Regions from separate parts of the Homo sapiens genome. Here region 2 is linked to region 1. The links come from fine-mapping of genetic effects on gene expression. Tissue or cell type: unexposed skin. Region 1 holds a variant in brackets; the other region holds the start of a gene. All regions are shown on one strand. Distances are from middle to middle.

Region 1 (2,680 bases):
AATTAGCCGGGCGTGGTGGCACATGCCTGTAATCCCAGCTACTCAGGAGGCTGAGACAGGAGAATTGCTTGAACCTGGGAGGTGGAGGTTGCAGTGAGCTGAGATCGTGCCATTGCACTTTAGGCTGGGCGACAAGAGTAAAACTCCATCTCAAAAATAAATAAATAAATAAAATAAAGAAACAAATAAAACAAAGAGTTCAGGACATTGACTTTGTGGAATGTCCATTATTCTGGAGCTAATTGTTTCCTGTTTTTCTCTTTTAGCTCCTGTATTTTCTGTAAATTGGAAATTACACTAGGCCTAGAAGCTTAATTGGATTCAAATTCATCATATTTAGCAGGAAGATTTCATAGGTGATACTTTGTGTACTTAATCTTGCCTCACATCAGGAGGCACAAAGTCTCAGGCTGACTCATCAGTGAGGCTAAATTTGAACTTGCAGTTAAGGTAATGCCTGCCAGACTGCTCCACTGGAAAGGTATCTTTTCCCTTTTCTGAAAATTAGGTAATCTTGAGGGGTGATATTTTGCCTCTGCATAAAGACCCTCTTTCCAAGAAGAGAGCCTTTTCACCTGATTGTTGTGTTTTGGCATTAATTATATTTGTCTGAATCAATTATTCCCTTTTGCAGTTGTAAAGTACCCTTCTGATCCCTCCCTCCTCCTGTCACTATGGACTTATGTATTTTTATTCAATATATTAAATAATTGTTTTCCCAGTTGCCTTATTTGAATTTACATCCAAATAGGATCCATATATCTATAGAAGTTTGAGCAGAGGAGTGACAGCATTTGCCTAACTTTTTTTTTTTTTTTAGATAGGGTCTTGCTCTGTTGCCAAGGCTGGAATGAACTGATCTCAGCTCACTGCAGCCTCGACCTCCTGGCCTCAGGCGATTCTCCTATCTCAGCCTCCTGGTAGCTGGAACTACAGGCATGTGCCACCCACCACACCTGGCTAATATTAAAAAAAAATTTTTTTGAGACAGAGTCTTGCTTGGTTGTCCAGGCTGGAGTGCACTGGTGTTATCTCAGCTCACTGCAACCTCCGCTTCCCAGGTTCAAGCGATTGTTGTGTCTCAAGCCTCCTAAGTAGCTGGGACTATAGGAGTGAACCACCACGCCCGACTAGTTTTTGTATTTTTAGTAGAGGCAGGGTTTCACCATGTGGGCCAGGCTGGTCTCAAAGTCCTGACCGTAAGTGATCCGCCTGCCTTAGCCTCCCAAAGTGCTGGGATTACAGGTGTGACCCACCACTCCTGGCCAAAAAATTCTTTTAAAATTTTTTGTAGAGACAAGCTTTCACCA[T/C]GTTGCCCAGGCTGGTCTCAGACTCCTGGGCTGAAGCAATCCGCCTGCCTTGGTCTCCCAAAGTGCTAGGACTACAGGCATGAGCCACCGTTCTTCTTCTTTTTTTTTTTTTTTTTTTTTTTTTGAGACAGAGTCTCACTCTGTCATCCAGGCTAGAGTGTAGTGGCGCAATCTCGGCTCACTGCAGCCTCCACCTCCCGGGTTCAAGTGATTCTCCTACCTTAGCCTCCCGAGTAGCTGGGATTACAGGCGAGCGCCACCACACCCAGCTAATTTTTGTATATTTATTGGAGACAGGGTTTTGGCATGTTGGCCAAGCTGGTCTTGAACTCCTGACCTCAGGTGATTCACCTGACTCGGCCTCCCAAAGTGCTGGGATTACAGGTATGAGCCACTGTGCCCAACAGAGCTACCTTTTTTTTCCCCCCCGAGACGGAGTCTTGCTGTGTCACCCACTCTGGAGTACAGTGGCGTGATCTCGGCTCACTGCAGCTTCCACCTCCCAGGTTCAAGCAATTCTACTGCCTCAGTCTCCCAACTAGCTGGGATTACAGGCGCCCACCACCACGCCCGGCTAATTTTTTGTATTTTTTAGTAGAGACGGGGTTTCGCCATGTTGGCCAGGCTGGTCTTGAACTCCTGACCTCAGGTGATCTGCCAACTTCAGCCTCCCAAAGTGCTGGGATTACAGACATCAGCCACCGCGCCCGGCCTAAGCCACCATTCTTAAAAAGGTCACTTTGACTGAAGTCTGTTGAGGATAGACTATGTGGCGGAGTGAAATCTGGAGACTACTGCATCATCCAGGAGTGAGGAAAGGGGCTTGGGCCAGGATAGTAATGTCAGTGGTGAAAAGTAAATCTGCTTTAATGACAGGATTACTTTAAATGAAAGAGGAGGATATGATGGCTTATGCCTGTAGTCCTAGCTACTCAGGAAGCTGAGGCAGGAGGATTGGTTGAGCCCAGGAGGTCATGGCTGCAGTGAGCCATGATTGCACCACTGCACTCCAGCCTGGACAACAGAGCAAGACTGTCTCAAAAAAAATACGGCAGGGCGCAGTGCTTCACGCCTGTAATCCCAGCACTTTGGGAGGCCATGGCAGGCGGATCACCTGAGGTTGGGAGTTTGAGACCACCAGCCTGACCAACATGGAGAAACCCCGTATCTACTAAAAATATAAAATTAGCCGGGCATGGTGGCACATGCCTGTAATCCCAGCTACTCGGGAGGCTGAGGCAGGAGAATCACTTGAACCTGGGAGGTGGAGGTTGCAGTGAGCCAAGATCGCGCCATTGCACTCCAGCCTAGGCAACAAGAGCGAAACTCCATCTCAAAATAAATAAATAAATAAATAAATAAATATATAT
Region 2 (2,680 bases), 280 kb after region 1:
AGGGGGTCCTTTGGGTTCTTGCATGCCTGACACCCAACATCAGGAGTGGGCGTGGCTGGTGGGGCATCACTGGGTGCCCTGAAGCTGGGCTCTTGGTTCTGGCCCCTGGTGTGGCCCCCAGGGCAGGGGAACGGCTGAGCTGTTGGGATGGAGCAGAAACCAAAGGCCAAAGGTTTTTATAACTCATTCAAGGTCACCAAGCAAGCCAGAACAGAGCCAGCACAAGACCCTGGGGCTGGGAAGTCTGGGCCTGCACTCCCTGCCTCCCACCTAGAGCAGAGGCAGCAGCCTGTGTCACCCCAAACCAGGCCCCAGGCCCCAGCAGTGGTCCCATCTCTGGGTGACTTCTTGCCCACAGCAAGGTGCCCTTGGCCCTACCCACACATGGCTGACCTCCACGCCAGGACTGTCCAGGCTCGGCTCTTTCTAGGCCCCGTAGACCCCATCAGCCTCCACCAGCATTTGTTGACCCAGCCTAAGGACAGGTGGTCTGCACACCCAGGGCCATTGCTAATCAGGCCACCTCCCCCAAGGCCTTCCACCTTCCAGACCCAACTTAGGCTTTATTCCACCACCTGGCCCTCCATCCGGGCTTCCTAGGCTCTGGCCAGTCCTGCTCCTCCCTCCAGAGCCATGACCAGTCGCCGGCCCAGGACAGACCGGGTGCAACTGAGGACCCTCCCGGTGGTCACCTGATCGTACTGGGGGTATCAGCCGGACACCCCGCCTCCAGAACCCGCTGCCTCTGTCCAGAGCGGCCCAGCCCCAGCAGGCTGGCAGCTCGGTGCAAACAACGGGATGCAGCGGGCGGGATGCGAGCCCCACGATCCCTGGGTCGGAAGCCAAGGGCTTAAGCCCCCACGTTCTTTCTGGCTCGCGGCGGGCACTTCGTGCGCCCCACCTTCCCCGCAGTTCTGAGAGAGGCGGTAGCAGGGTTCAGATGGAGGGAAGGACAGGGCGCGGAAAGGGGAGGGGACTCGAGGGGGGCCAGGGGGATGGGGGAGAGGGGTGAAAGGTGAGCGATGGAAAGAGAACCCGGGCTGGAGAGGGGAGAGGCTGAAGGCAGGGAAAGAGTGGCCACGGCCTCACCTGTGCGGGGCCCGGGTCGGTCCGCCTCGGGCAGCAGCAGCTCGGCGCGGGCAGCCTCCCCAGGCATGGCCTGGCCGTGCGCCCGCCCGTCCCTCAGTCCTTCCGACCCTCCGTCAGTCCGTGCCGCCGCCCCGCCGAGCCTGCGCGGCCACCGCCCCTCGGCCGGGCGGTGGGGGCAGTGGGTGACGTCAGGCCGCCCCGCCCGCCTGTCCCAGCGAGTGAGCGTGCGCGGGCTCGCCAGGCACTGCGGAGGGCGTAGGGGGGGCTCCCTCCCCGCCCCCACCCCACCCGGCTGTGGCCTCCCTCTCGCTGTGGGCGGTTTCGTGGGGGAGCGGGGGTGGGCGCCTGCGCCCGGTCCCACCCTTTCCACAGCATTTACGAGGGAGGGTTTCAGGGCCAATTGGAAGCTGGGTTGCCTCAGGGTGGCATTCGCCCGTGGCCAGGAAGAGGCGGGGACGCCCCTAGAACCCTGGTTGTGGGAGGCTGGGGAGGTGGTTGGGATTCTGGGATGCTCGGAGCGCTTTGGGTGGAGTTGGCGGCGCAGCCTCCTTCCCCGCTGACCAAGCAGAGGGTGCAGGGCCTGGGGAGGGAGGGGGCCCCGCCCAGCCCGATGCCTCCATGCAAAAGGTGAGCTGGAGCTGCAGCTCTGGAGTGATTGGCTGGTCCTGGCAGTCGTCGGTCTCCGTGGCAACCGCCTCCTGTCTCCATGGCAACCAGGGATGGAGCCGACGAGAGCGCACCAGGGAAGGCGACCCGGATGGGTCGGTCTCCAGGTCTCTAGGCAACTCGGTGATCTGTCCTATCATCTCCCCTCCACCCCCACACTAGGCAGTAGAAGGAAAAGGAAGAAAGTGTTTCCCTCTATTCCTGGCAGCACCCTCTGCCACACCTCCCAGGAGGAAGCCCGCCCCGTGAATTTCCTGAAATGCCTCTTGCTTTCACACAGGCTACTGCGCCACCCAGATTCACTGAGCACCCCTCCTCCCCCGTGCCAGGCACCAGGGAGACAGATGAATGAGACATTGTCATCACCCCTGACTGGGGTGGGGGGAATCAGAGTAGCCATTGTCACAGGCAGGGAGGGAGGTTTCAACATCCTCAGTCTTCTGTGGGTTCTAACTTTGAGCTCATGAAGCCAGGGGCTGCCCTCTGACTCCCCCAGACCTGCCTCAAGGCTCAGTGCTACACACCTGGCTGCCTGCTGGGCATCTCTCCCCGCTGTACCCCAGGAGTCAGACACACCACACCATTAGAATTAACATCAACTTCAAACAATCTCTTCCAGAAAACAAAAGAGAAGGGGACACTTCCTAACTCATTTTATAAGGCAAGAAATATCCTGATGTCAAAACTAACAATGTGTCGCCAGGCGCGGAGGCTCACGCCTGTAATCCCAGCACTTTGGGAGGCCGAGGCTGGCGGATCACGAGGTCAGGAGATCGAGGCCATTCTGGCTAACGTGGTGAAACCCCGTCTCTACTAAAAATACAGAAAATGAGCCGGGAGTGGTAGCGGGCTCCTGTAGTCCCAGCTACTCAGGAGGCTGAGGCAGGAGAATGGCGTTAACCCGGGAAGCGGAGGTTGCAGTGAG

Evidence for each region. PIP is the estimated chance that this variant, and not a neighbour inherited with it, causes the effect.
Region 2: it holds the start of NACAD, and the variant in region 1 is fine-mapped to the expression of NACAD in unexposed skin (GTEx, PIP 0.91).

What each region holds. Positions count from the first base shown.
Region 1 is chr7:44,810,836-44,813,515 of GRCh38, forward strand. No RefSeq gene overlaps it. Among named protein-coding and RNA genes, the nearest start is that of PPIA, 15 kb to the left of the region's middle. The variant T/C (reference allele first, on the strand shown) is at 1,311.
Region 2 is chr7:45,087,739-45,090,418 of GRCh38, forward strand. NACAD (NAC alpha domain containing) reads right to left here and starts at 1,231. Exons shown (of 8, transcript NM_001146334.2): 1 at 1,090-1,231. The coding sequence starts at 1,156.